Regions from separate parts of the Homo sapiens genome. Here region 2 is linked to region 1. The links come from fine-mapping of genetic effects on gene expression. A gene starts in region 1. The other region holds a variant in brackets. All regions are shown on one strand. Distances are between the middles of the regions. Region 1 holds the start of TCF7L1 (transcription factor 7 like 1). Region 2 overlaps TCF7L1 (transcription factor 7 like 1).

Evidence for each region.
Region 2: its variant is fine-mapped to the expression of TCF7L1 in whole blood (TOPMed, PIP 0.98).

Annotation. Positions count from the first base shown.
Region 1 is chr2:85,124,987-85,140,557 of GRCh38, forward strand. TCF7L1 (transcription factor 7 like 1) reads left to right here and starts at 8,406. Exons shown (of 12, transcript NM_031283.3): 1 at 8,406-8,947; 2 at 9,030-9,093; 3 at 9,337-9,464. The coding sequence starts at 8,699. RefSeq lists a silencer at 8,006-8,075 and enhancers at 8,441-9,015, 9,591-10,165, 10,166-10,739.
Region 2 is chr2:85,306,356-85,321,926 of GRCh38, forward strand. TCF7L1 (transcription factor 7 like 1) reads left to right here. Exons shown (of 12, transcript NM_031283.3): 9 at 1-10; 10 at 97-204; 11 at 1,287-1,362; 12 at 2,674-4,032. The coding sequence ends at 3,107. It overlaps TGOLN2 (trans-golgi network protein 2), which reads right to left. Exons shown (of 4, transcript NM_006464.4): 4 at 11,672-15,571. Among named protein-coding and RNA genes, the nearest start is that of TGOLN2, 14 kb to the right of the region's middle. RefSeq lists enhancers at 1-358, 3,281-4,164, 7,030-7,530. The variant G/A (reference allele first, on the strand shown) is at 3,532.

The DNA of each region.
Region 1 (15,571 bases):
CTTGAACCGGGGCGGCGGAGGTTGCAGTGAGCTGAGATCACACCACTGCCCTCCAGCCTGGGTGACAGAGTGAGACTCCATCTCAATTAAAAAAAAAAAAAGCATATGGATTCTGCAGTTGTTGTTGCAATGTTTTCTATATACGTCAAGTTTGTTAATTGCATTGTTCAAGTCTTCTATATTTTTGTTGATTTTTTGTGGCTTGTTTGGTCAGTTACAGAAAGAGTTATATTAAAATTGCCAGCTATGATTGTAGTTTTGTCTACTTCTCCTTTTCGTTCTGTTTTTACGCATATTTTTGAAACTATGTTATTAGGTAAATGAAAATTTTGAGTTATTTTTATCTTCCCCTTTTATCATGATGAAATGTCCCACTTATTTCTACTAATATTTTTGTTTTAAAGCCTACTTCATCTAACATTAGTATAGATAAATCAGCTTTCTTCCCCCACGCTATCCCCGGAGTCTTACTCTGTTGCCCAGGCTGAAATCTGGAATGCAATGGCGGAATCTTGCTGCCTAATGGTTTCAAGCAATTCTCCTGCTTCAGCCTCCTGAGTAGCTGGGATTACAGGCATGTATCACCATGCCCACCTAATTTTAATTTTTTTAGTAGAGATGAGGTTTCACCATCTTGGCTAGGCTGGTCTTGAACTCCTGGCCTCAAATGATCCACCTGCCTCAGCCTCCTAAAGTGCTGGGATTACAGGCGGGAGCCACTGCACTCGGCCTAATCAGCTTGCTTTCTTTTATTTATTTATTTATTTTTGAGACGATGTCTCACTCTGTCGCCAGGCTGGAGTGCAGTGGCACGATCTTGTCTCACTGCAACCTCTGCCTCCTGAGTTCAAGTGATTCTCCTGCCTCCGCCTCCCGAGTAGCTGGGACTACAGGCGCATGCCAACACACCCAGCTAATTTTTGTATTTTTAGTAGAGACAGGGTTTCACCATATTGGCCAGGAGGGTCTCGATCTCTTGACCTCGTGATCTGCCCGCCTTAACCTCCCAAAGTGCTAGGATTACAGGCATGAGCCACCGTGCCCAGCTAATCAGCTTTCTTTAGGTTAGCATTTTTTATGTTTATCCTTCTCCCTCTTTTTACTTTCAACCTGATTTGTCATCACCTCAAGGGTGTAGCTTTTGTAAGCAGCAGATAGCTGCTTTTTAAAAATATACTCTAAAAATCTTGTCTTTAAATTTGGAGTGTTTAGATCATATACATTTAAAATAATTACTGAAATTTTGACTGTATCATTTTAATATATTTTTATTTGTCTCATTTGTTCTTTAATTTTTGTCTCCTTTCTTCTTTCTTGCTCATTAGTTTGTTAGTAATATTCTTTTCTTTTTTTTTTTTTTTTTGAGACAAAGCCTCCCTCTGTCACCCAGGCTGGAATGCAGTGGCACAATCTCGGCTCACTGCAACCTCTGCCTCCTGGGTTCAAGTGATTCTCCTACCTCAGCCTCCCAGATAGCTGGGACCACAGGTGTGTGCCACCATGCCTGGCTAATTTTTGTATTTTTAATAGAGAAGGGGTTTCACCGTGTTGATCAGGCTGGTCTCGAACTTCTGACCACCTGCCTAGGCCACCCAAAGTGCTGGGATTACACGTGTGAGCCACCACACCCAGCCAGTTATACATTCTTTAATTATTCAGTGAGTGTTATTCTAGGGATGAACACATGCATTCTTGACTTACTAGAGTGCACCTTATTTATTTATTTATTTATTGAGACAGAGTCTTGTTCTCTCTCCCAGGCTGGAGTGCAGTGACACAATCTCGGCTCACTGCAACCTCTGCCTTCTGGGTTCAAGCAATTCTCCTGCTCCAGCCCTCCTAGCAACTGAGATTACAGGTGTGCGCCACCATGCCCAGTTAATTTTTGTATTTTTAGTAGATACGGGGTTTCGACATGTTGGCCAGGCTGGTCTCAAACTCCTGACCTCAAGTGATCCACCACCCTCAGCCTTCCAAAGTGCTGGGATTACAGGCATGGGCCACCACGCCTGGCCTACTAGAGTGTACTTTAAATTCCTACTTTCACGACTTCTCAGACAACCTTAGTTTGGTTCAATGCCATATCCCCCCTCTGCCTTTTGTCCTATTGTTGTCATGTATTTTATTTTATTTTATTTATTTTTGAGATGGAGTCTCGCTCTGTCGCCCAGGCTGGAGTGCAGTGGCACAATCTCAGCTCACTGCAACCTCCACCTTCCGGGTTCAAGCAGTTATCCTGCCTCAGCCTCCTGAGTAGTTCAGATTGCAAGTGTGCGCCACCACATCCGGCTAATTTTTGTATTTTTAGTAGAGATAAGGTTTTGCCATGTTGGCCAGGCTGGTCTCAAACTCCTGACCTCAGGTGATCTGCCTGCCTCGGCCTCCCAAAGTGCTGGGATTACAGGTGAGCCACTGCACCCAATCCCCATTGACTATTGATGTTATTTTCAATGTCCTAAACTCTTTTAGCAATGGTGAAAGGCAAGTTTATTTTCTCTGGACATATTTCTGTGGCTACTGCTCTTGAGTACAATTTAATTAAGTCACCATCAGTTAATAGCTCTCCTTGCTTTACTAACAAATGAGCCTCTAGGACACTTACTTTGTGAAGAAATTTTGCTGTGATTAGATATTCTGATTTCAATTTTTTTTTGAGATGGAGTTTCGCTCTTGTTGCCTAGGGTGGAGTACAATGGTGTGATCTTGGCTCACTGCAACCTCCGCCTCCTGGGTTCAAGCGATTCTCCTGCCTCAGCCTCCCTAGTAGCTGGGATTACAGGTGCCCGCCACCATGCCCAGCTAATTTTTTGTATTTTTAGTAGAGACAGGGTTTCACTATCTTGGCCAGGCTGGTCTCGAACTCCTGACCTCAGGCAATCCACCTGCCTCAGCCTCCCAAAGTGCTGGGATTACAGGCGTGAGCCACCGCGCCCCGCTTGATTTCAATTTTTAAATTTTTCTGGTCATTCCTTTCCTCTCAGTTGGGAAAATTGTTGATGAGTGCTTACTCTCGTGATGTTGACATATGTTCTCTTAGCATAACTGCTGTTGTTGCATACTAAACACAACGCTTTGTCACCTAATTTGCTAATAAAATAATCCATACTTCACTGTGCCTTCAAAGCACAAAATTCATAGTCTACTGATATGGTTTGGCTCTGTGTCTCCATCCAAATCTCATGTTGCATTGTAATCCCCATGAGTTGAAGGAGGGGCCTCGTGGAGGTGACTGAATCACGGGGCAGGGGGACCTTCTTTCTTGCTGTTCTCATGGTAGAGTTCTTACGAGATCTGGTTGTTTGAAAATGTGTAGCGCTTCCTCTCTGTCTCTCTCTCCTGCCACCATGTGAAGAAGTCGCTTGCTTCCCCTTCACCTTCTGCCATGACTGTAAGTTTCCTGAGGCTTTCCAGTCATGCTTCCTGTTAAGCCTGTGGAACTGTGAGTCAATTAAACCTCTTTTCTTCATAAATTACCCAGTCTCAGGTACTTCTTTATAGTAGTGTGGCAACGGATGAATACATCTACTTTTCTTTTCTTGTTTTGACATAATGGATATGCCCTGGTAATAAAAATTTAAAATAAATGTCGCAGTACAGAGATATGCATGGCACTGAAAACACTGTATCACCGTGATTTGTGGTGTACTGAGCAGCAGTATGAAGTGATAAGAGCATATACTGTCCCTGTTGCAACTACAGTCAGGCACCATATAACAAAGTTTTGGTCAATGAGGGATCACATACATGATAGGGTCCCATAAAATTGTAATACTATATTTTTACTGTGCCTTTTCTATCTTTACATATGTTTGGATACACACGTACCAATGTATTACAGTTACCTGCAGTATTCAGTACAGTAACATGGTGAACAGGTTTGTAACCTAGGAGAAACAGGCTATACCATATACTCTAGGTGTGTAGTAGGCTATACCACCTAGGTTTGTGTATACTCCATATGTTCACAGAGCAATGAAATTGCCTATTTCTCAGAATGTATCCCTATCATTAAGCAATACATGTCCTAAACTCCATCATTGTTTTGTGAAAGCAGCCATTGGCAATGTATAGGCTAAGGAGTATGGCTATGTTCCAATAAAACTTTATCAACACTGATATTTGAATTTCATATAATTTTCATGTGTCATAAATATTATCCTTATTTTTATTTTTATTTTTTGGGACAAAATTTCGCTCTTGTTGCCCAGGCTGGAGCGCAACGGCGCGATCTCGGCTCACTGCAACCTCCGCCTCCCGGGTTACAGGCATCTGCTACCACGCCTGGCTAATTTTTTTTTTTTTTTTTTTTTTGAAACGGAGTCTCGCTCTGTCGCCCAGGCTGGAGTGCAGTGGCACGATCTCGGCTCACTGCAAGCTCCGTCTCCCGGGTTCACGCCATTCTCCTGCCTCAGCCTCCTGAGTAGCTGGGATTACAGGCGCCCGCCACCACGACCGGCTAATTTTTTGTATTTTTAGTAGAGACGGGGTTTCACCGTGTTGACCAGGATGGTCTTGAATTTCTGACCTCAGGTGATCCACCCGCCTCGGCCTCCCAAAGTGCTGGGATTACAGCCGTGAGCCACTGCGCCTGGCCCTTATGATCTTTTTCAACCACTTAAAAATGTAAAAAAAGCGGCCGGGCGACGTGGCTCACACCTGTAAAACCAGCACTTGGGCGGATCACCTGAGGTCAGGAATTCGAGACCAGCCTGGTCAACATGGAGAAACCCCGTCTCTACTAAAAATACAAAATTAGCCGGGCGTGGTGGTGCATGCCTACATTCCCAGCTACTCAGGAGGCTGAAGCAGGAAAATTGCTTGAACTCGGGAGGTGGAGGTTGCAGTGAGCCGAGATGGCACCATTGCACTCCAGTCTGGGCAACAAGAGTGAAACTCCGTCTCAAAAAAAAAAAAAAAAAAGTAAAAAAAAAAAGTCTTAGCTGAGACCATTCAAAAACAGGCAGCAAGCTGTAGTATGCTGCTCTAGATGGTTGTTTTTGGTTTGGCCTCTATGCCTGGTGCTACAAATCACCAAATTCTCTGAGGGGATGAAACAGCAGTGAATACAAACTCGCTTGAATGAATTTCCCTTCTGGTATTTTGACTCCTCACGTCCTGGCTGACTTGGTTGACAGTGATGCCTTCAACTCAGCTGGGTTTTGTTGTTTTATTTTGGTATTTTATCCAGTTTATAGTTAGTTGTTCTTGATGAAGGAGTCAATCTGACATCAATACCCCATTAGAATGGGAAGTGGAAGTCTACATGTTAATTTTAATTTGCTACTTTTGCTTACCATTATGAGCCTCCTTCTATATTGACAAATATATCTCCACAATGTCATAACATTCCATTAGATGAATGCACCATGATTTAACTTAATAATTCCCTATAGGGGACATTGAAATTGTTTCTAGATTTTTTCACTGTGATGAACACACTTCTACAGGTTTATTTTTGTACCTAGTTGTTTCCTTCAGATAAAATCCTAGAAGTACGTGGATAAGTCAAAGGGTTCACACTTTTAAAGGTATTTCACAGGTATTACCAAACTTCTCTTTAGAACTGTTACACAATGGCCCAGCATCTATGTGCTTCTTAGTATAGGGGCCAATGCTGGGTGTTACCATTCTTTTCTTCCTTTGCCAATCTGACAGATGAAAACTGGTTATCTCAATGCTGTTTCCGTTTGCATTTCTGGTTTATAGGTGTGGCAGGCTGATAATGGCTTACTCCCAAAGCTGCATCTATGACCTAATCCCTGGAAACTGTGAATGTTTAAGGAAAAGAGGTCTTTGCAGATATGAAGTTAAGGATTTTGACATGGACAGGTTATCCAGGTGGTCCTTAAATGCTATCACAAGTATCACTTTTTTTTTTTTTTTTTTTTTTTTGAGACAGAGTCTCACTCTGTCGCCAAGGCCGGAGTGCAGTGGTGCCATCTCAGCTCACTGCAACCTCCTCCCTCCAAATTCAAGCGATTCTCCTGCCTCAGCCTCCCAAGTAGCGGGGATTACAGGCGCCTGCCACCACACCTGGCCAATTTTTTGTATTTTTGGTAGAGACAGGGTTTCACCATGTTGGCCAGGCTGGTCTGGAACTCCTGACCTCGTGATCCACCTGCCTTGGTTTCCCAAAGAGCTGGGATTACAGGCGTGAGCCACTGTGCCCGGCCACAAGTATGGTTTCTTACAAGAAGGGGGCAGAGGAAAATTTGTCACAGACAAAAAAAGGAGAAGGCAATGTGATTACAGACGCAAGGGTGGGAGTGATGTGGTCACAAGCCCCCAGAAGCTGCAAGAGACAAGGGTAGATTCTTTTCGGAGCCTCCAGAGGGAGCATGGCCCCGTCAACACCTCCATTTCTACTCAGTGAAACTGACAGTGGACTTCTGTCTTCCACAACTATGAGAGGATAAACTTCTGTTGTTTTAAGCCACCAAGTTTTCGTGATTTGTGACAGTAGCAGCAGAAAACTAGTACAATAGGTTTTTCATATATTTATGGACCATAAACATGAAAAATCGTCTGACTTTTAAATCTTATAAAAATAAAATAACACACAATAATACAAAGAGTATGATTCTATGTATGTACATCAGAATATCTGTAAATACGTTTACATATGTTCATAACTGCCTAGGAAAGTGTCTGGAAGGATATATACCAAACTAGTGACAGTGGTTAACCAGAGGCAGTTAACTGAAAGTGGTTAATTAGAAGGGTCCTGTGTCCTGAGGGGGAAAGAGGAACTTTTACTTGTTACTCGATACTGCTCAAGATACATCTGTTATTTGAAAACGCTTTATGAGACTGTACTCATGTATTGTGTAAAAAATTAGAAAAGGCATATCTGCTTGTTATAAAGTTCATAGAAACCAGAAAACTATCTCCTTTCACTTATCCTTTCCCAGAAATAGTCATTGATAATAATTTGCATCTTCTCAGATTTTTTTCTACGCAGAAATAAATGTGTATAATTTTTTTAAAAACAAAAATAAAATAGTGAGTGTCATATATAGTGTTTCATTTAAAGATGTTCCTCCAAAATCAATCTTGGTCCATGTGCCTGTGTGTGTGTGTGTGTGTGTGTGTGTGTGTGTGTGTGTGTGTGTGTGTATGGGTGGGGGGAGGGGCGGGGACACTGCATAGAACTGGCCAGCTGCATGGACTGTCACTGTAAAGAAAGATGAAGAATGCATGTCACCAAGCTCTCTGATGCTTTGAACCTAGCATATGTGGCTTTGCCCATATGTGCGGGCACCTCTGTAGAAACTCTTCTGCCAGTTGGGCTGAAAATAGTTTTACATAGTTCCATACTGCCTTCCAAGCTGTTTTCAAAGTTTATGCTCTAATAGTTCCCCACGGAGGATAACACAAGATATTCATTTTCCTCAAACTTTCCCGCACAGGTTGGAGAGAAACGACATCTTAATGTCATTGTAACAGGCATTTCTTTATTAAAAAAATTTTTTTTTTGGAGACAAGGTCTTGCTATGTTGCCCAGGCTGGTCTCAAACTCCTGGGCTCCAGCGATCCTCCTGCCTAGGCCTCGGGAGTAGATGGAACTCCAGGCGCGGGCCGTGGCGCTCGCACCACAGGCATTACTTAGGTATGAGGCTGGTTGAGCATTTTTCTCGTGTTCACTGGCTACTCACGCAGCTTTGTGAATGGCTTCGGAGATCACTGGACAGGCAATTTTCCCTCTCAATGAACCAAATCCAAATTCTTTTGGAACCCAAGACCGCGATTTTTCGATTTAGGACCTAGTCCCAAACAATGAAGAAAAGGTGATCTTCAAGATTTCAGCAGGGAAATCTGTATATCTGTACAAGGTTGAAAACCTGGGCCGGGGGTCGCGTTGGAACCCCACAGGAAAAAGGCGCGGAAAGCCGCCGGGCATTTTCCGGGGTTCCATAGATGTCCCCAGTGTCCTAGTCCGTGCATCAGCTCGCGCACTCGGAGGGACTCTAGGCAGGGGGAGGGCCCCGCGGCCAGTATGTGCGTCCGAGGCTTTCCCGCAGGGGGCAGTGCCGCCCGCCCGCGCGCCGATACGGTGGGAGGGGGTGGGAACCTGCGCGGAGTTCTGGAGGTTCTTTGGGAGAAAGTTAGGGGATGCGGAGGGGTGGGCGCAAGACTTCCAGGACTCCAGGGAGGCCGTGGGGAGGGCCGCCGAGGGTGCAGTGTGAGGCGCAGGAGGGGGTTGGGGGCGGTGCACGTTGCAGGGAGACGCAGCCCCTGGAAGATGCGAGTGTGAACGTGTGAGTGTGAGTGCGTGTGTATGTGTGTGTGTGCGCGCGCACCGCAGCTCTCCGGGTTCCGCGAGGCGCGCGGGTGTCAGCTTGCAGCCGGGGCTCCTCCCTCCGGCCCCCCTGCCCAGCCCGGCGGTCCCTCCTCCCTCCCTCCCCGCTCGCCCCTCCCCGGCGGGCCAGGGGCTGGGACGCCCCGGCGGAGCAGGCGGCGGCGGTGGCGAGTTGGGGAGCCCTAGGCTCGGCGCTGCCGGAGGGGCCCGAGCCGAGCCGCCTGCGCCCCGGCCGGGCAGCGCCGGGCCCGCTTCCCGCGGGGCCACGCCCTGTCAAACTTTGTTGCGGCGGCTAGCGCAGCGGGCCCGCAAGCGGGCGGGAGGGGCGCCGGGCCGGGCCGGGCAGGGCGCGGGCGGCTAGGGGCTCCGAGAGCGGCGGCCCCGGCCCGCGGCCCCACCATGCCCCAGCTCGGCGGCGGGGGCGGCGGCGGCGGCGGCGGCAGCGGGGGAGGCGGCGGCTCCAGCGCCGGGGCGGCCGGCGGAGGGGACGACCTCGGGGCGAACGACGAGCTGATCCCCTTCCAGGACGAGGGGGGCGAGGAGCAGGAGCCGAGCAGCGATAGCGCCTCGGCGCAGCGGGACCTAGACGAGGTCAAGTCGTCCCTGGTCAACGAGTCGGAGAACCAGAGCAGCAGCTCGGACTCGGAGGTAAGGAAGCACCGCGGCCACCCCCGGGGGATCCCGGCCCTGCGTCCGCTCACCCGCTCTTGCCTTTGTGTCTCCTCCGCAGGCGGAGAGGCGCCCGCAGCCCGTCCGGGACACTTTCCAGAAGCCGCGGGACTATTTCGCCGAAGGTATGTGCCCGCTGGGACAGCCCCCCACTCTCGATTCCCGCTGCGCTCCGCTGCTCAGCCCGGGCGGCCCACCGTCCCCCTTGCTTGGGTGGACGCACCCTTGCCCTCCGCCTTTATTGGCGGCAGCCCCCGTGGGGCGCGCGTGGGGGGCGCTGGGGTCCCCAGCTCCCGCCTCGAGCCCCCTGCCGCGGCGCTGTCAGTCCCGGGGGCCTGGGCCTCACCTCGCCTTGGTCTTGTTCGCAGTGAGAAGGCCTCAGGACAGCGCGTTCTTTAAAGGACCCCCGTACCCTGGGTACCCCTTCCTGATGATCCCGGACCTGAGCAGCCCGTACCTCTCCAACGGACCCCTGTCTCCCGGAGGAGCGCGCACCGTGAGTGCCCGTCGGGCGCGCCGGGGAGGGTGGGAGGCCGCGGCCCGCAGGATGCGCCCCCGGGCTTGGCCATGGAGTGGGGGATGGGGCCTTCTGCGCCGATCCCAAGCAGAACTTGTTTGCGGAGTTGAACTACTCTCTGGCGGCCGAGCGCGAGGCTGCGCTGGCCAGTGCCTGGATGAAAGTAAAGTTACTTTAACTTTTCCCCTCTTGCGGGTTGAGGTTTTGGAGTCCACCTCTGGGATCTTCCTTGGCCTCCAGAATTCTTCGCCTGCACCGAAGGAAACTTGGATTTGTGCCCGCTTTGGGGGGGTCTCGCTTTCCTTCTTGGAAATCGGTCAGCTTTCTCTGGCAGTGGGGCAAGGGGCCTAGGGAGCTGGGTTGGCGACGTTGTCCTCCGACTCCGGGTTCACTGGGCGGCTGCAGGCTGGTTCCTAAGAAACCCAGTTTTCGTGGCGGGTTATTCACAGCCCCCGTTCCCACCCCCAGCCCTCGCACCGGGGCCTCAGCTTTTCTGCGGAGCTAGCTCCGAATTTTAAACTCGCGTAGATGATTTCGAGGCGACCCAAGGCATTCTTCAAGTTGAGGAACTTGGCTTTTTCCCCCTTTTGTCGCCTGCTTTTCTCATTTAAAGCGAGCGCTGCGACACTTTAAACCTGTTAATGGGCGCGTATTGTGTGCTGCCCGCTGGCATTTAGAGCGGTGATTAAGCAAATTGACCGGGCCCCAGACGACGTGCAAATGAGGGCGGATTCCTTCGCCCCCTCTCTCTGGCTCTAAACTCCCGCCCCCCGCGTTGCGAGGGGCGCAGCTGGGGGCTGGCGAGGCCTTTGTGTCCCCCAAGCCGCCACTCCACCCCTAGGCTCCCTGCCCAGGTGCTGGGTCCGATGACAGATGTTGGGTGAACGCCTACCTACTGTGTGCCAGGTTCCCGCGTGCTGCTGCTTGGGCGCGATGTGAATCGTAGTAGTTCTTTGCTTCCCGCCCAGATTCCCATTGCCTGCCACTTCGCTGTCGACGGTGGGTAAGGGGGCAGGGAGTGTTAGCCTCTTAGGAGCAGGGTCCCAGCAACACACTTTATGCTAAGACTGCCCTAAAATAACGACGATAATTAAAGGGTGCTAGAGAAAGGCTAGGTGCTGAATGGCCATTCCTGCTGTCATTGTACAGCGGTCGGTGGAGAGCCAAGTCCTCCACATTTGGTTCAGCGGGGGCGCTACCATCACCAGATGGGTTGGAGGGGGATTGACGGGGGGCGGTGGAAGAGACTCTGACTGAGAGAGAGGGGAATGGGGAGTGGGACTACACAGACCTCACAGTTTTGCCCCGAGAGGGAGGGAGGTCTTGCAGCTTTGGCCCTGCTGGCCTGGAGCACCCCAGGAAGTCCTGAATGTAAGTGTCAGTTTTGCAGTGAAAACTGGATGTGGGTCTATGGCTGTTGCTTTTTCTCATTAAAAGAAAAGAGGTGCGTGCCAATCAAAGGGGGGGGGGGATCAACGAGCTGCTGCGGTCTTATTTAGGTTTTCAGTGATTCCCACCAGTGCCCACACATGTAGCTTAGTTCTGCAAGTTTTGTTGGGATTCGTGTAACTTTGCGTATGGGGGAGAGTTAATGCCGCTAAAGTCTCAGGTTTCCATTTACTATTAGGATATCTAGAGAGAGGGGTCTGGGAGGCACTAGCATCTGTGCATCAGCCCTCAGCCAAGTCCTGATGCAGTTAAAGTCACCAGAAATGACTATTTCACCATCAAATATGACTATGGCTCCCTCAAGGCTATTTCTCCATGCACCCATTTCTCTTTAGGGCATTTTGATTCATCCAGGCTCTGCTGTCTGCTCTCTCTGACAGTCCAAGTGAGACAGATTTTTGTTAGTGTCCCCTCCTTCCTTCCTTCTATCACATTATGTGTTCTTTCGCCTAAGAACTTCCAAAGGCTGATTCTTGCTGATCCTGGAGATTCCTGATTACTAAATCCAGGCCCGTGTGGGATTTTGGAGCCCCTCCTTGAGGCAGCCAACCTTTCGTCTCTGCATGCCTCTCTGACTGTCCTTGTTCATCTCTGCAGTTGTTCCCTGCCCTGGCCCAGGCACCAGCCTCCTTTCAAGCCTCCTAGGACATGTACTTTCTTGGGGACTTAGTATGTCCCATCCCACCCCCATACCTACATCTTGTCTCCCTGGTGACTTGCCCTTACAGAAGTTAGTTCAGTTCCCAGTGTTTCTGTGTCTCTGTGTGCCTTTCGCTGTGTTAGTTCACGGATATACTGGGGAAGTGTCCTGCCCTTAGGTCAGCACAGTTAAACCTAATTTGACCCTGTTCGTTTGCTGCCAGTAAGTAAAGCAAGTGAGGAAACACTTAAGCACTTGGTTGTCTGGACTATAGGGTGGAGATGATGGTTTTCTGCTGAACGATTCTATTAATATAATTAAGATAATTGTCACTGTAGGCAAATGGTAGGTACAGACAAAGTGGCCCTCTGTTGGTTTCCCAGCCTGGTAAAATGAATGTGGATAGATACGAGTGGGGAGGGAGGAGGGAGGAAAGTGCCTGGGATATATGATCCGATCTCTCTGACATCTTAGGTCTTTTTTATTGTTTGGCCTCTAAACTGCACCACTTTAGGCTTTGCTGCTCTAAGGCCTAGAGGTAGTATAAAATTAGGTGACCCCAGTTATCTGCTGCTCTAACACTTCCTCTGGAAATACCAAGCCAGATGCAGAAGTGGGAATTGTCTGGATTGTTTTCAGGGTGTTAATGAACCCTAGGAATAGCAGGCAGGAGGCTTCAGCAGCCTCACCCACTGGCATAATTCCTGCTGAGACCACTGGGGGCTGGCCCATCCTACAGTCTGGCCATCTCTCCCCATGAGCCATCACCCTTGCCCTCCACTCTGGTTTGGCTGGGATGCTGGGAAGTGGCTTTTTCCTGAGGCTCTTTAGAGAAGAGGTCCCCTCAGCATGGGATGTGGGCCAAGTCTCTGTGAGCTGCAATTGCTTCTTGTCTGGAGGCCCTGGGACCCTGTGAAGAGAGGAATAACTGCCACAAACCATTTTTCAAATAATCACCTCAAAATTATACATTCATTTCTGAAAAGGCTTCACGGTTTACTAAACTACTTTGGGGCTGTTGCCTAGAATTTTGTTAGGAAAATGTAAGTTGGCTGGGTGCGGTGGCTTAGGCCTGTAATCCCAGCACTTTGGGAGGCCAAGGCGGGCGGATCACCTGAGGTCGGGAGTTCGAGACCAGCCTGGCCAACATGGTGAAACCCCATCTGTACTAAAAATACAAAAATTAGCCAGGCGTGCTGGCGAGCACCTGCAATTCCAGCTACATTGGAGACTGAGGCATGAGAATCTCTTAAACCCGGGAGGCAGAGGTTGCAATGAGCTGAGATTGTGCCACTTCACTCCAGTCTGGGCAACAGAGTGAGACTCTGCCTCAAAAAAAAAAAAAAAAAGAAAGAAAGAAAATGTAAGTCAACACATTAGAAAGTGAATGCCAAAAATGGTTTAAGACAAAGAAGAGCCAAAAAGAAAATGTTGAATGTGGTTCAGCAAGCCAGCTACAATGTGATAGAAAGTAATTTGACTGTGACCATGAAGTGAGGGCTGATGACATTTTGGAAAGAAACACTTCTAGGTAGTATTGCTGAGGGAGTCTGTGGTTTTTGTGTCCATCTTATAAATTACAGAACCTCTTTCGTTCAGCACAAGCACACGAAAGGCTTTGCTTTATTATTTCTCAGACCATCTCATCTCAGGCTTGTGTATGAAATTGTCCTGGTCCTCAAACGCGTGCTCATTTTTAAGTCCTTTATATCCCACTGCTTCCCATGGGCAGTCTTGCTCATATCCTGGGAGCTCCTGTTCTTTCAGACCCAAAGGAACCCAAGCAGAAATCTTTGTATGTATATGTATGAAGAAGTTGTCTGTTTTTAGGAGTTGTATGTAAAAGCTAAGGAAACCTTTTCTTTTGGAAGATCAGTATAAACATGCTGCTTTTGGTAAAATTCTTTTGAGCCATTTCATCTAAATATAACTTCTGTTTCATTTTTTTTTCTAAATATAACTCAGAGTTTAATGAGGGCTTTTCACATGGAACAAGCTTTTGAGAGGGCCTGTGTTGCTGAAGTTTTCGCCCTTGGATTGCTGGGGTGATATTGGTGACAAACTCTGTAGGGAAGGACTGGGAACCTGTCAATCTTTTTTCTTTGGTTGGGTGGATTGGGCAGGGAATAGCTGACTTGATTTGTTATAAGTTTGGAAGGTTATAGTTTGGTCACATTCTTCATTGATCACACTTTTAGGGATTCTTGAAGAAAAGGGAAGCAAAACATACACACACACCCCCACCCAATCTAACAGCGTATTCCAGCCTTTACAGTGATGTGCAGTGTTACTAAAATAATTGGGAAATAAAAAAGAGTATAAATGATTAACTCGCTGGAAAATCTTTTAAATCTTCTATAATAGGAAGGCCCTACTTACATTCTAATTTAGAGACACCTTTTACATGCCAACCTAGGGAAATTTAGATTTACACTTTTCTTTTTTTTTTTCTTTTCTTTCTTTTTTTAGACAGGGTCTCACTCTGTCGCCCAGGCTGGAGTGTAGTGGTGTGATCTTGGCTCACTGCAACCTCCACCTCCTGGGTTCAAGTGATTCTCCTGCCTCAGCCTCCTGAGTAGCTGGGATTACAGGTGCGTGCCACCACGCCCAGCCAATTTTTGTATTTTTAGTAGAGACAGGGTTTCACCATGTTGGCCAGGCTGGTCTCGAACTCCTGACCTCGTGATCCACCTGTCTCGGCCTCCCAAAGTGCTGGGATTACAGGCGTGAGCCACTGCGCCCAGCCTAGATTTGCACTCTTAAAACTAATTCCTAACTCTTAAACTTCTTCAACTGAAGTCTATTGGATACCTATCATGGGCAATGGCTAAGGGACCATGGGAAACAAGATAAGACCCAGGCTTTGCCCTAAAGGATTTAAAAATTAAGTAGGAAAGAAGTCATGGTAGCACTGTAATAAGAAGTTAAGAGGTAGTAAAGTCTGGAGAAGCATTTTCATAATAGAAATTGAGAAAAATTACTTCCTGGGTGATCCAAGAAGGCAGGTCGAAGAAGTAGGTTTAAACTGGTCCTTAAAACTCAGTCATTCTTTAATCCAGGTAATTCTTGTTAATTTAGAAGAATGTAAATAGTAAGAGGAGGCATTTAGAGTGAAAAAGTGGAAGTCTTCCTTCACTCTCATCTTGAGGTGGGAGCCAGGACCAGGAGAGTGAAGACATGGAGGAAGGAAAAGTTCAGGGCGATTTGGGGGTAATGCAGCTTATTTCAGTTCCATTTGCCTGGAAGGAGAAGGGGCCAGGACATGGGCTAGGGGACCTAGAATGCCATGGAAGGAATCTGATCTTATTTAAGAGGCAGCAGAGAACCATCAGAAGTTAGGCTGGGAAGTGATGTGACTTGTACACATGGCTAGAAAGATAATGGTGGATTGGAGGACGAGGACCTGGAAGGGGATAGAGCAATTAGACTCACAGGAGTCAGGGGTGAGGTGAAAAGGGCTTCAGAGTAGCAGAGTGGAAAGGAAAGGTGGGATGGGAGGAAATAGGATTCTTGTCTGTACCTCTTTGGGGAGGGGAGGTACCAGATCCAGAAAGTGGCTGATGTCACAGTTAATTCCTGGTGTCCAAGCTCAGGCACCTGGAGACTGACTTCTGTGGGTGGGGAGGCCTCCCCAGTCTCTACCTCCCCAGTGGTGGACAGATGCTTACTGAATATTTTGGCGATGACAGAGCCCACACAGTCTATGAGAGGCTCTCATTGGGAGGAACCCTCGGTTTCATTGGAGACACGTTAGGTGTGAGGGGATGTTGAGGGGATGATTGAAACTGGCTGATGTAAGAGAGGTATAGAAGTAGGAGAAGGGATGCTTAGAGCAGGGACAGAAGTCGTTGGAGGAGGATGGAAGGGAGCATTGGGTAAGGTAGGAGAAGCACTTAGGGACTCCCCTCCCCCTTTCTTTTCCTCCATGGTGGAAGCTGGAGGGAAAGAAAGTGGGAGGCCAGGTGCAGTGGCTCATGTCTGTAATCCCAGCTCTTTG
Region 2 (15,571 bases), 180 kb after region 1:
TGGAAGAAAGGTAAGACCTGCCCTCTCCCTCCAGGCCAGGGAGGCAGCGTCCCTGCATTGATGGCTCCGTGTGGTCTCTGACCCTCTCTCCCCCAGTGGCACAACCTGTCTCGAGAAGAACAGGCCAAGTACTACGAGCTGGCCCGGAAGGAGCGGCAGCTTCACTCGCAGCTCTACCCAACCTGGTCAGCCCGGGACAACTATGTAAGTGCACACTCTGGGCAGAGGACGCTCAGACCCCAGGAACAGCCTCTGCAAGAGGAGGAAGGGTGAAGGAAAGCAACTGCATTTATTTTTATTTATTTTATTTTCTTTTATTTTTTGAGACAGAGGCTCACCCTGTCACCCAGGCTGGAGTGCATGCAGTGGCGCGATCTCGGCTCACTGCAAGCTCCGCCTCCCCGGTTCACACCATTCTCCTGTCTCAGCCTCCCGAGTAGCTGGGACTACAGGCACCTGCCACCACACCCGGCTAATTTTTTGTATTTTTAGTAGAGACGGGGTTTCACTGTGTTAACCAGGATGGTCTCGAGCTCCTGACCTCGTGATCCGCCCACCTCGGCCTCCCAAAGCGCTGGGATTACAGGCGTGAGCCACCGCGCCCGGCCAGCGACTGCATTTATAGAGGACTCTTAAGATCAGGGAGAAGCCCATACTTCTCTAGAAATAAGGAAGGTGTTTTAATTCTCAGGAGGTCAACAAGTCCTGAGGACGGACTTCAGTTGATGCATTTCCCTTTGAACTGGACTCTGCCCTCGATTTCATAACACAGGGCACGGGGTTAGCTGTGGTAGGAAGAGTTGTCTCCAGCCACTCCTAACCCAGGGCTCAAAGACCAGTGTGTGAGCCTCAGGGGGCGTGTCTCTAAGCTCCCGGAAACCAAGCCAATTTTCGCATGCGTGTTCTTCTTTGCTTTTTTTCTGGTAAGAGGACCCACAGTTGCATCAAACTTTCAAAGGGACCTGGGACCCCTCAGAAAAGATCTAGAAGCACTGTTCTAGGGAGAGAAACAGAAAAACAGAGTCTGAAGGGCAGTGGAGGGAGGAGGCCTTCCAAGAAGGCCTGGACACCCGACCTGGAGGGGAAACGCGTTTGTAGGGGAGGAAGGGCTCCCTCTGCCTCCTCACGGGCTCCCACGGCTGTGATCTGAATTATCTCTCCACACTCTCCCTGAGGGATCGAGAGCAGTAAAGGGCAACGTCCTGTCTTCTCTCTGATCTGGGAGCCCCTGAGAAGCCAGCATTCTTCTCTCCCAGCTTACCTCTTCCTTTGGCTGTATTTTCCAGGGTAAGAAAAAGAAGAGGAAGAGAGAAAAGCAGCTGTCCCAGACACAGTCACAGCAGCAAGTCCAGGAGGCAGAGGGTGCGTCTCGGGGCACTGGCCTCTTCTCCTGCTTTTCCTTTTGTCACAGCCACACCTGCCCATGCTGTCTCTAGCTCCCTGATGGGTCAGGGCTTCTGCCTCGGTATTCGCGGGCGGGTATTATTACCCCTTTCTCGAGGTGGCCACTTAAGAGGCTCTGAGATGTGAAGGCATTTTCCCAGGCACTCTGCTTCAGTGGTGGTGGTAGGATTTGATCCCAGGACTTTGTCACTTCAAAGCCTAGACAATCTAATTCCATTGAAAAGTGAATCATCCTACCTGAGGGTTAATGGAATGAGGTTGAAATTGTCTTTGAAATACCCTTAGGAAGGCAGCACATGAGCCCCTGACATCCCACCTGTCAGTGGATCCAGGGGAGCCCGGGTTTCCTTGGATGTTTCTTTGGTTGAACACCAGAAAAAATTAGTTTGCTTGGGTTTAGGAGGCACTTTGTGTCAAAACCATGTATAAAATCTCTATATTACCAGAATCATGCCTAGCACAGAAAGATGCTCACACTGTGACGATTATTATTAATATTTAGGTCACGCCCCCCATCTCATGCTCACTCCAGGACAAGTGTATCGCTGCTTGCACGATGTAAAGTGCTTTCAATCTCTCTTCTTCATTCCTCCCTCCCTCCCTTTCTTCCTCCCTCCCTTTCACCTTCCCTCCCATTCTCCTTCCCTCCCTTTCCCCTTCCCTCCCTCCTTTTCTCCCTCCCTTTCTCTTTCCCTCCCTCTCTTTCCCTCCCTCTCCCCCTCCTTCCCTCCCTTCCCCCCCTCCCTTTCTTCTTCCCTCGCTTTCTCCTTCCGCCCTCCCTTTCTCCTTCCCTCCCTCCCTATTTCCTTGCCTCCCCTCCTCCCTTCCTTCCTTCCTTCCATTATACATAGGAGCGCACATGAGTGGAACCCGTACCTGCTACAGAACCCGCTGTCTGGCACGCTGTTCAGCAGGCATGCACTCTCTCTGACTGTATTAATACCATAAACCAAAGATTTCAAAGCAAACTGGAGATTCATCCCAAAAGTTACCAGCTTTAGGAAAGGAGGGTGGTCCTGTGAGACACTGAGCCGTCTTCTCTCCGATCTGATGCTGGGTGGATCTTCATCAGTTTGGGCGTTGCCTCTTCTCTGTGCTCTGGGTATTTGTGAATGCAGTTTCCTAGTCTTGAAAGCCTTGGAAGTAATGTCAGGTCCTCGCCAAAATCATCCCTGTGTCTCCAAAGCACATGTATCGCCAGGGCTGTTCCTCAGCCTCCTCCTCTCACAGAGCTATAGCTGCTCACTCTTTCTTGTATTTTCCCCCTAGGTGCCCTGGCCTCCAAGAGCAAGAAGCCATGTGTTCAGTACCTGCCCCCCGAGAAGCCCTGTGACAGCCCTGCCTCCTCCCACGGGAGCATGCTGGACTCCCCGGCCACTCCCTCTGCAGCTTTGGCCTCACCAGCTGCCCCTGCTGCCACCCATTCGGAGCAAGCCCAGCCCCTCTCCCTCACCACCAAACCAGAAACCCGGGCCCAGCTGGCTCTCCACTCTGCCGCCTTCCTGTCGGCTAAGGCTGCAGCCTCCTCCTCTGGGCAGATGGGCAGCCAGCCTCCCCTCCTGTCCCGGCCCCTCCCCCTTGGGTCCATGCCCACAGCTCTGCTGGCCTCTCCCCCGTCCTTCCCCGCCACGCTCCATGCCCACCAGGCCCTCCCGGTGCTACAGGCCCAGCCTCTTTCCCTGGTCACCAAGTCTGCCCACTAAGCTCCCCCCGACCCCTGCAGGCTGTCACATGACTCATTGAGTAGTAATGATTCAGAAGAAAAAGAAAAAGGAGACTTTATTGGTCAATATTTGACCACTCTGGACTGTTCTGTAAAGTGGCTGGTAACAACAGCACTTTACAGTTTGTAGATGTAACCAGTAGCTGATCTTAAGGCTTTTTTAAAAAACAAAACAAAACAACAAAAAAAAATCTTTATAAGAAAGAGAACTGAAAAGTAGCGTGCTATTCGTCCTGTAGGTGCTGTGGTGGATGGACCTGGGCAGAGGGCACTTCTCTCTCTTACCTCTCTTGCACTTTCTGTCTCCTGTCTCTTCTCGCCCCTGCCGCCTGCCCCAGCTTCCCCGACTCCATCTGCAGCTCTGCCATTGTGACATTTCCTGTTACCCAGCCCAAGTTTTCATC[G/A]TCTGCTCAATACCGTGGGTTCTTCTTCGTCCTCTGTCCTCTGCCCAGTGTGAGGCCATCACCATGTGAGAAGACATCTTGGCCTGATTTGCTGCCACCAGCGTCCCCTCCCTCAGTGGGCCCGAACTCGCCAGCCCCAGCTTTCAGTGGAGAAAGCGGTCCTCTGAAATGGTTTCCTCCCAACCCCCGCATTTAAAGGGACTCAAGGTGCCTGCCACTTCCTCAGCGAAGAAGTCTGTGTTCCTCCCCGTCCTTGCCAGTGGCGATCATCCCTTCACAATCCCAGAGTGGCAGGCGGGACCGGCCCCATGGTCTGGCTCCTGTCACCTGGGTCCGTGCCAGCACAATCTGCCAAAGTTCTAGAGACCCTGTTCCCTTCCCCATCACCTCACATGCTTCTTCTGTGTGTATTTCTTTTTGTTTTTATGGTTTTTGGAGCAATTTAAACTCCCAGTTGTTTATTTTCACAAAAGAAAATAAAATTGCAGTTGCAAGACCTTTTCTGAGTGTTTCTTTAGTGCTTTTGTTGAATCAAACCACCTGTTTGTTTCACTCCCAAACCCTGTGTTAGACTTTCGCAGATATGCAAAGGAAGATTGCCACTTGCCACAGGGGAATGTTAGGCATGCCTGACACCCTTAGAAAACCTGAACCCAGCTTCCTGTCTCAAATGTGCATGGGCCAGTCAGTGTCCATGACTGAGCTGCAAAGGGGGTAATCATTTTCACAGCTGATTTAAATGAATTTGCCGCCTGGAATGACATTCAGCTTATGCTTCTATCACCCATTTGACTCGTAATTGCCAAGATGTGAGGAAGCATCTTTTGGATACTTTCCATAGTATCTAGCACCACAATTAATTTTTTGTAACAGCTTTATGGAGATATACTTCAGCCATTTAAAGTTACACTTCACCCATTTAAAGTATACAGTTCAGCTGGGCAGAGCCGCTCTTGCCTATAATCCCAATGCTTTGAGAGGCTGAGGCAGGAAGATGACTTGAGGCCAGGAGTTCAGGACTAGCCTGGGCAACATAGCAAGACCTGATCTCTTTAAAAAAAAAAAAAAAAGCAACTAGCTGGGGATGGTGGCACACAAGCCTGTAGTCCCAGCTTCTCAGGAGGCTGAGGCAGGAGGATTGCTTGAGCTCAGGAGCTCAAGACTGCAGTGAGTTATGATTGTGCCACTGCATTCCAGCCTTCTCAACAGAGTAAGACTCTGCCTCAAACAAAAAAGGTATACAATTCAGGCTGGGTGCGATGGCTCACACCTGTAATCCTAGCACTTTGGGAGGCCGAGGCGGGTGGATCACCTGAGGTCAGGAGTTCGAGACCAGCCTGGCCAACATGGCGAAACCCCGTCTCTACTAAAAATACAAAAATTAGCCAGGCATGATGGTGCGCACCTGTAATCCCAGCTACTTGGGAGGCTGAGACAGGAGAATCGCTTAAACCCGGGAGGTGGAGGTTGCAGTGAGCCGAGACAGCGCCATTGCACTCCAGCCTGGGCAACAGAGCAAAACTTCATCTCAGAAAAGAAAAAAAAGTAGACAATTCATTGGCTGTATGTTCAGAGTTGTGCACCTATCACCAGTCAATTTTAGAAAGTTTTTGTCAGTCCCAAAGGAAGCCCCATATCCTTTGAAAATCACTCCACATTTTGCCCATCTCCCCCAGCCCTAGGCAACCACTAATCTACTTTCTGTCTCCAAACTTGTCTATTCTAGACATTTCATATACAGTCATGCATCGCTTAGCAACTGAGACAACGTTCTCACAAATGCGTCGTTGGGCAATTTTATTGTGTGAACATCATAGAGTGTAGTTAGAAAAACCTAGATGGTGTACACACCTAGGCTATATGGTATAGCCTATTGCTCCTAGGCTACAAGCCTGTACAGCATATGCTACTGTACTGAATACTGTAGGTGACTGTGACACAGTGGTGAGTGTTTATGTATCTAAACATAGAAAAGGTGGCTGGGCGTGGTGGCTCACGCCTGTAATCCCAGCACTTTGGGAGGCCGAGGCAGGTGGATCACTTGAGGTCAGGCAGGTGGATCACTTGAGGTCAGGAGTTCGAGACCAACCTGGCCAACATGTTGAAACCCCATCTCTACTAAAAATACAAAAATTAGCCAGGTGTGTGGCACATGCCTGTAATCCCAGCTACTTAGGAGGCTGAGGCACAAGAATCACTTGAACCCGGGAGGCAGAGTTTGCAGTAAGCCGAAAGCGCACCACTGCACTCCACCCTGGGCGACAGAGTGAGACTCTTTCTCAAAAAAAACAGAAACAAAACATAGAAAAGGTGCAGTAAAATCTGGTGTAAAAGATAAAAGATGGGCCGGGTGCAGTGGCTCAAGCCTGTAATCCCAGCACTTTGGGAGGCCGAGCAGGGTGGATCACCTGAGGTCAGGAGTTAGCGACCAGCCTGGCCAACATGATGAAACCCCGTCTCTACTAAAAATACAAAAAGTAACTGGGCGTGGTGGTGGGCGCCTGTAATCCCAGCTACTCAGGTGGCTGAGGCAGGAGAATTGCTTGAACCCAGGAGGCAGAGGTTGCGGTGAGCCGAGATCGCACCGTTGCACTCCAGCCTGGGCAACAAGATCAAAATTCTGTCTTGGGGAAAAAAAAAACAAAAAACAAGATAAAAGATGGCATAGCTGTATAGGGCATTTCCCAGGCATGGAGCTTGCAGGACTGGCAGCTGCTCTGGGTGCGTCAGTGAGTGGTGAGTAACCATGACGCTGTACACTTAGGCAACACTAGGTTTATAAAGAAATATTCTTCTTTCTTCAAGAATAAATTAACCTTAGTTTAACTTTTTTACTTTATCAACTTAAACACTTTTTGACTCTTGTAATAACACTTAGCTTAAAACGCAAATACACTGTACAGCTGCACAAAGATATTTTCTTTATATCCTTATTCTATGAGCTTTTTTCTAATTAAAGTCTTTTTTGGGGCTGGGTGCAGTAGCTTATGCCTGCTAATCTCAGCATTTTGGGAGGCCAAGGTGGGCAGATCACTTGAGATCAAGAGTTTGAGACCATGACCTCAAAACCCCAACTCTACTAAAAATATAAAAATTAGCCGGACACGGTGGCGGGCGCCTGTAATCCCAGCTACTAGGGAGGTTGAGGCAGGAGAATCTCTTGAACCCGGGAGGCGGAGGTTGCAGTGAGCTGAGATCATGCCACTGTACTCCAGCCTGGGCAGCAATGCGAGACTCCCTCTCAAAGAAAACAAAAACAAAAACATTTTTTTTTTTACTTCTTAAACTTTTTTGTTTAAAACAATAAAAATATAGCAAATACATAAACCAGTAACATAGTCATTTCGTTCATTAAAAAGTACTATAGGCCAGGCGCGGTGGTTCACGCCTGTAATCCCAACACATTGGGAGGCCGAGACGGGCAGATCACCTGAGGTCAGGAGTTCGAGACCAGCCTGGCCAACATGGTGAAACCTCTCTACTAAAAATACAAAACTTACCCGGGCATGGTGGCGGCCGCCTGTAGTCCCAGCTACTCGGGAGGCTGAGGCCAGAGAATCGCTTGAAGCCAGGAGGTGGAGGTTGCAGTGAGCCGAGATTGTGCCATTGCAACCCAGCCTGAGAGACAAGATCAAAACTCTGTCTCAAAAAAAAAAAATACTGCACATAATTCTGTGTGATAGACTTCTTTGTATGACTGGCAGTGCAGTGGGTGGCTCCACCAATGCCAGCCTCTCCTTCCCCTGCCCCATGTGGCTGGGTCTGCAGCCTGCTCGGCCTCCCCTCTCTCAGACCGGGGGAGCTGAGGGGGTGAGGTAGAGACGGCCCAGGGGCAGAGCAGGGGGGTCGGGCTTGGTGCACAGGCAGACTCTGCCTTTGCTACTTCCTGCCTCTCTCTCTGTGACCCTGACCTCCCTTCTCCCCTGTCCCAGGACCTCTGGGAACTGACACTGTCCTGGCCAGGCCCCAGCATCTCACCCAGGCAGCCCAGCTAGAGCCATCTGTCCCTCTTGCCCTCCATCTGTGTTCCTGTGTCTCTTCCTCCTGAACACAACCTGAGGGCCTCACAAATATTTAGTTACATGAACGAAGCAGGCCGGGCACGGTGACTCACGCCTTCAATCCCAGCACTTTGGGAGGACGAGGCAGGCAGATCACTTGAGGTCAGGAGTTTGAAAATAGCCTGGCCAACGTGGTGAAACCCCATCTCTACCGAAAATACAAACATTAGTGGGTGTGGTGGTACATGCCTGTAATCCCAGCTACTTGGGAGGCTGAGGCAGGAGAATCGCTTGAGCACGGGAGGCGGTTGCAGTGAACAGAGATCGCGCAACTGCATGCCAGCCTGGGCGACGGAGCAAGACTCCATCTAAAAATAAATAAATTTTTTAAAAAATGGAAAAAGCAGAGGAGCCAGGGACCCGGCATCCCTCTGGCACGGGAATGGGAAGACAGCAGAAGAATCTGTGGGGGCAGTTTCCGGAACACCGGTCTCAGGTCATCTGCTGAGGAGTGGGGAAGCCCAGCTGTTTAGGTCTGGGGAACATCAGGTGCCCCACAGTGGCTGTGGCCTCTGCCATAGTGTAGTTCTTCCCTCCTCCCTCCAGCTGAGTCCTGAGATGCCAAGTACCAGTCAGGCTGCCTGCCTTTGCTCACATGCATTGGCATCCCTCTGGAGGCCTTGTGTTCTGATGTCACACTAAGAATCATGCATGTTCACTCACTCCGTGACTGCATAAAAGTTCATCCTGAAATCAGGCTGGTAATGAGCTGCTGTTCATGTGTGGTCTTCATGGGGGGAACCCAGTCATGTGCTCCACACTTCAAGACACGAAGGGGAAGATGGGAGGCAGTAAGCTTGACCTTCCTGCAGGTGCTGAGCCAGCTCATGGGGGCTGAGGACCAGGGCTGGGCTTTACCTGCCTCTGAAGGGGCTTGGAGCAGAGGCAGGGGAGGTGGAAGAATAGGAACCTGGGGCAGTGTCCTTCCCAGGCAGGAGGACACAGAAGAGCAGGCCCCTGCCAACATCAAGTTGAAACAGCTGTAAAAGTGGCCTGGGCACAAAGCTGGCAACTGAAGATAAGGCTCAGGACACAGCGAGCGGTCACCCTGAGGCTCTCCTGGGAGCAGGGAGTGGCTGTCTCCGGCCATGGTCCACAAAGGCACCAACCACTCCCCTTTGCAGGTGTGAAGCAGCAGCTGGGGACAGTTCAGCCCGGCTTAGGCATGACCTCTGTTTTCATCTGCCTGCGAGGCACCAAGGAGGACCTGCATCTGCCGTCCACCAACTACTATGTTTACTATGACACGGACATGGACCAGGCGTAAGGTGCACGTGTGTGTGTGGCCCGTGCCTCCCTGCTTGACTCAGAGAACGAGCAGAAGTTATGGAATGGGAGGAAGTAGGCAATTTCCAATTTGCACCTGGAAGTTTGTCACACCAAGGCTGTGGCTCAGCTTCACCCCTGTGGGGAGTCCCTAGGGACGAGCAGTCCTTGCAGTGGTTCTGGGGTTTTGAGGACAAAAGCCTGGAGATCGCACCACACTCTTGTCACACGCAGGATGGAGCGCTACATCTCCATGCCCAGGGAAGAGGCTGCGGAACACATCCCTCTTCTCTTCTTCGCTTTCCCATCAGCCAAGGATCCGACCTGGGAGGACCGATTCCCACGGGGGGCTGCACGTCCTGGGTGAGGGGGTGGAGGGAGGGGCCGGGCAGTAGTAATATCAGCTCTGATCCCCAGGCCGGTCCACCATGATCATGCTCATACCCAGCACCTACGAGTGGTTTGAGGAGTGGCAGGTGGAACTGAAGGGAAAGTAGGGCAGTGACTATGAGACCTTCAAAAACTTCTTTGTGGAAGCCTCTATGTCAGTGGTCCTGAAACTGTTCCCACAGCTGGAGGGGAAGGTAGGGGGTAAAGTATTTGGGGTGGTGACGGACCTCATGGTGCTATTTCTGCCCTTTCCTTGAGACAGGGGAATTGGGCCCCAAGACATGAGCCCCAGGGAAGGACAGGGCACCCAACCCCGGAGTCAGTGAATGGGAAAGAGTGGAAGAGGGAGGGGAGCCAGGATCTCACATGCCTGCCCCACCCTTTCTGCCCTCAGGTGGAGAGTGTGACTGCAGGATCCCCACTCACCAACCAGTTCTGGCTGCTCCCCGAGGTGTCTGCTACAGGGCTGACCATGACCTGGGCCGCCTGCACCCTCGTGTGATGGCCTTGAAGGCCCAGAGCCCCATCACCAACCTCTGACAGGTATACTCACTGCCCCATGTTGTCAGGACCTGAGACCCTGGGCCCCTGTCGCCCAACGTCCTCTGTTCCTGCCCTCAGGCCCTGCTGTCCCCTGCAGCCTCCCATCCCCTGAGCAGGGCTGCCTGGGCAGGCTGTGGCCCCTGTCTGATTGGAGCCAGCTCTGGGTGGCCCTCATGTGGAGGGAAGAGCACCAAGGCCCCACCCTCCCCTGGGCCTGCCTGGGTGCACACTCAGGGGCCTCTGCTCTTGCCTCCTAGGCCAGGGTATCTTCACCTGTGGACTGGTAGGGGCCCTGCAAGGTGCCCTGCTGTGCAGCAGCGCCATCCTGAAGTGGAACTTGTACTCAGACCTTAAGGATCTTGTCTCTAGGATCTGGGCACAGAAGAATTAGTTCCATCAGGGAGGAGTCAGAGGAATTTGCCCAATAGCTGGGGCATTAGTTCCTTGCACATATAAACCACTCTTATTTGGTTCTGATGCCTGAAGAGAGGCCTAGTTTAAATCACAATTCCGAATCTGGGGCAATGGAATCACTGTTTCCAGCTGGGGCAGGTGAGATCTTTCCACCTTCTATAATATGCCATCCCTACTAATAGGATATTGACTTGGATAGCTTGATGTCTCATGACGAGCGGCGCTCTGCATCCCTCACCCATGCCTCCTAACTCAGTGATCAAAGCGAATATTCCATCTGTGGACAGAACCCCTGGCAGTGTTGTCAGCTCAAGCTGGTGGGTTCAGTTCTGTCCTGAGGCTTCTGCTCTCATTCACTTAGTGCTACGCTGCACAGTTCTACACTGTCAAGGGAAAAGGGAGACTAATGAGGCTTAACTCAAAACCTGGGCATGGTTTTGGTTGCCATTCCATAGGTTTGGAGAGCTCTAGATCTCTTTTGTGCTGGGTTCAGTGGCTCTTCAGGGGACAGGAAATGCCTGTGTCTGGCCAGTGTGGTTCTGGAGCTTTGGGGTAACAGCAGGATCCATCAGTTAGTAGGGTGCATGTCAGACGATCATACCCAATTCATATGGAAGTCCCGGGTCTGTCTTCCTTATCATCGGGGTGGCATCTGGTTCTCGATGTGCCAGCATCAAGGCACCTTCAGGGAGCTCGGTACCCGAGCCTCAATCAAGCCTTATCCTCCAAATATGCAGGGAAAGGTGACACAGGGCAGGGAAGGGTGACGTCAGGAGTCAGGGCATCGACTGGTAAGATTACTTCATTGTGTTGAGGCAGGCTGCAGGGCATTCCACACAATGGCACAGCAGAGGACAGCACAGGGAGGCAACAGAGTGTTCCCAGCAATGGCCCAGCTACTGAAAGCAGGCAGCCAGGCTGGGAGGAGTCAGGTGGCAAGAGAGTTGGTCAGGAGCAGAACATGGAAAGCCAGAGAAAGTGTGCAAAGCCCAGAAATGGCATCTGCAATTTACTGGTACATGTGTGTGTTGGATGGAAGGTGAAGGAAGGCTCAAAAGGCATAAAAAGGACCTTTCACTTATGTTAAACTGACATGCCAAAGGTCTTATTGGAGTTCATCTTAATATAATATTAATAAATTTATTGGCCGAGCGTGGTGGCTTACACCTGTAATCCCAGCACTTTGGGAGGCCAAAGTGGGCGGATCACGAAGAAGAGATTGAGACCATCCTGGCCAACATGGTGAAACCCCGTCTCCACTAAAAATGCAAAAATTAGCTGGGCGTGGTGGCACGCACCTGTAGTCCCAGCTACTCGGGAGGCTGAGGCAGGAGAATCGCTTGAACCTGGGAGGCGGAGGTTGCAGTGAGCCAAGATCATACCACTGCACTCCAGCCTGGTGACAGAGCAAGACTCTGTCTCAAAAATAAAATAAAATAAATAAATAAATAAATGTATTAAATCCATTGCTTTAACATTTTGAAATTTATTTTGGTTTCTGTTCAACAAAACCAAACCACATTGGGATGGCATTTACAGAAGCTCAGAAAAACATTATGCACTGAAAAATACTTCTCATTAGACCACAACAAGCTTTAAAAAAATAAAATTAAGTAATTATAGTTAAGTTACAAAAAGCTGAAAGTATAAAACATTGTGGAAACAGTGACCATCTATTAACTGGGAAAACACAAAAGAAGAGAAACAATTTCAACCATTAATCATTTATCAAACATGAAGTCTGGTGCATTAAAGGAATATCTATCAGAGGGTGAGGGGCTGGCTTACTGGCAGTTTGACATACTATACAGCTCAGACCCAAACCCTTCACAGAGAGACTCTAAGTGTACATCTGACTTGCAGAACTAGACGAGTTGAGTCACTGTTAGCTCTGGATATACCGTTAAATTAAACCTCAAAATCTCTCCCCAGGACTCTTGCTCAAGCAAGTCACGCCAAATCCAACCTTCCTAACAGGGGTTTTCAGAAAATGGCCTGCAGAAGCACAGGATCTGGTGCCTCACAGTTTCCTCCATGCTGCAATGCTCTAGTTCTCATCACGCCCATAGCATCTGGCATCAGGTTACCCTGTACAGTCAACGGCCATAGAAGTCGCCAGCAGGGAAATTCCAGAGGTTTAGAATTCTATCAGCACATGTGTCACTGGAAGCCATCATGGGAGTACTATGTCAGAGCGTATGTAACTAGCTGTCAGGTCTTTCCCCGTTGCCTCAGCCTTTCTACACAGACTGGCCTTCAACTTCCCCTGAGTCCAGAAGTAGACTCTTTCAGCAACTCTATTCAGGAATCTGCAGCAGGAAAACTGCTTCCTCTATTAACATCTATGACTGAAGCACAGATGTGTCTAATAGAAATCACCCTTCACCCAAAAGCTGGGCGCAGAAAGGGAAGCCCTTAGCTGACTATAGGAGGTGCCTCTTGTGGCTCCACGTGCTTCTTACACACCACCCCCCAGCTTGAGCGATGCCTCAGCCAGCTCACCCTCATCCACACAATCGCTAGAAAACATGCTTCAAATATTCTATCTTTGAAAAGACACCATGCAGAAAATAAGCTTTCCTCTGATGTGCGGTATTTTCTTCAATGCTATTTCTTTCTTTTTTTTTTTTTTTTTTGAGACGGAGTCTCGCTCTATTGGCAGGTTGGAGTTCAGTGGCACGATCTCGGCTCACTGCAACCTCCGCCTCCCGGATTCAAGCAATTCTCCTGCCTCAGCCTATCTAGTAGCTGGGACTACAGGTGCACGTCACCATGCCCGGCTAATTTTTGTATTTTTATTAGAGACGGGGTTTCACCATGTTGGCCAGGATGGTCTCGATCTCTTGACCTCGTGATCCCCCCGCCTCGGCCTCCCAAAGCGCTGGGATTACAGGGGGAGCCACCGCGCCCGGCCTTTCTTCAGTGCAATTTCTAAAGAGAAACTTAAATCCTGTTGTATTCTTTCAACACAAGCAATGATACTTCTCAGAGTCTGCTCAAAAGCTCAGCTCTGTGGACTCCGTGACAAAATGTACGCGTCCACTGCCGACCCTCTTGGTTTCTGAAACCAACCTTTCTTCCTGCTCTCCTCTTTAAGAGCAAACCCCAACATGTATAAGGTCACAGCAAGTGGTAGCCAGGAAAAGCTGTGGGACCCCTCATTTGAGTCACATCCATATGGCATGGAGAAAGAAAACCTCTCTGCCAGAAGGAACTGAACTCTGGAAGTCCTAAGGAAGGTCACCATGATCAGCAGATAGGAAAGCATTGCCAAGGGCTGTCCCTCAAGAGCTTAGTTTTCTTAGGGAGACCAGAAAGACATCAGATCCTGACTGCCCTGTTTTGCTCAAGTTCTGAAATGAGTGGCATGATGAAGAGCTGGTGGAGCTGAGGGAAAGAGTCAACCATGTGGGGTGGGGTAGTGAGGAAGGTGTATGAGGAAACAAACTGGGCCCTGACGAAACAGGCGGATTGGGGAAGGAGAAAGAAGGAAGGGAGAGAAACCTAACCAAAGAAACATGGGAAGCTGGAAAGTCGAGGGCACAGCCGGAATAAAGGCACAGATGGGCACCCCACAGGAGGGGCCTTGGCCAGGTTGGGATGCAGAGAAAAACAGGCAGGAGGGTGTCAATCTATAGCATCCTGAACCCCAAAAGGTCTGTAACTGGATTCTCTAAGCCTTGAGAAGTTCACACCAAAGCTTCAGACCAGGGAAAATATTTTGGAAAGATCAGTCTTTCCAAGAGTGAGCTCCTTTCCAAGAAGCTGGACAGGAAACCCAATAAATGTGGATCTGAAAAAACAAAATCCAAGAGAGAAGCAAAATGGGCTGGGGGTGTGCAATAAGAGAAGCAAGGAAAATGGAAAGACTGTAGCTGAGGATCTTTTATTAAAAAAAAATGGATGGGACTTTGGTGATGAGAGAGAAAAAGGGCAAAAGTCTGCAGTTAGGAATTTAGGTGACCGAAGACTGTCCTAGACAGTTGGGAGGGACAGGCTGATGGACAGAAGAGAGAAATTCCTTTCAATGACAACCAAGCTGAACTATTCGATACCAGCAGAACTGGGTTCTTTAGGGATTAAGCCAAGACAAAGACTTGGGAATCACTCACTCCGAGGATGAAGAATGGGTTAATGGCTGAGGAGACAGTCAAAGGAATAGAGAGGCCTGGCTTTGAGGGCCTCTTCACCACCAGCACAAGATAAGGCAAAGGACCATTTGTCAGAGACACCAAGAAAGGGGAATTTCCATTTGGATGGTCAATAGTGTCCAGTTCTGCCAAGGACAAGACTAAGCTTTGAGAAAAAGCCATGGATTTGGTGATTGGATAACTGGTAACCTTTAGAAAAGTTTAGTTGACAGACAGAGACCGAAGTGAGTTAGTAAAAGTCATGAAGAGAATGAATGGCAACTTAAGGGAAGCAACATACTGGAGAAGTTGAGCAGCGGGATGAATAACAAATAGGACAGATGGGAACAGAAAAATCTGGGTGCATACGAAGGTGGATGGAAAGGAGCTGGTACAGATGGGCACAACCAGAAAACATGAGGAGGGGAAAGGAAGGGAAAAGGAAGGCAGGCAGGGAGAGAGACGTGAAATAGCCACAGTCTTAGGGGATGCTAGAGAAGCCTAGAAGATTCCTCAGGTTGGTGCAAAGTATTATAAGACTAACGCATCAGTACAGAGAATGACCCAAGAAGGGTAGGAGTTCATTCCTTACCTTCATAAAGTAGGCTATCCGCCAAGAATGAAAATGTCAACTCAAAGCTATGGGCTGTTTTAAGCAAGGTGGAAGATAATATAAGAAGCATGGTCCTTTCTTCAGACTTACTGCCTTGACAGCACAGAATTCATCTTATTTCCCTCATCTCCCAAGTTATTTGTATTTCCCTGAGATCAGCTCAGAAACAACTCTCTTTAGGCTCTCTACAATGCGGTAGAGCATGATTAGAAAAGATAAACCTTCAAACAATAGTGTTGTCCAAGACACTACCCTCACTTATCCCAGGGGAACCCACGGAATTTCTTCATTTGTATTAACTCCTGACATGGCATGGAAGAAGAATTTTTATCAAATACCCTTGGCATCTTATATCAGATTAAAGGACCATTAAATACACTGAGGTAAAATTGGCAGAGAGTATAGTTTCTATTAATAAATCTAAGTCTATTTTGTCTGTTTTAGGCAACAAAGGCAAAATGGACTTTGTGGGAAATGTATCTCATAAAAGCCCTTTGGAAAAACTGCAGACCAAAACCAAAACCCTCCTTCATGTTTTCTCGCATGAAACATAAACTTGCCCTATTTCAAAAAGTTCCTACTGAGTATGATTGTGTGAAAGATCACACTACTTCAAATCATAT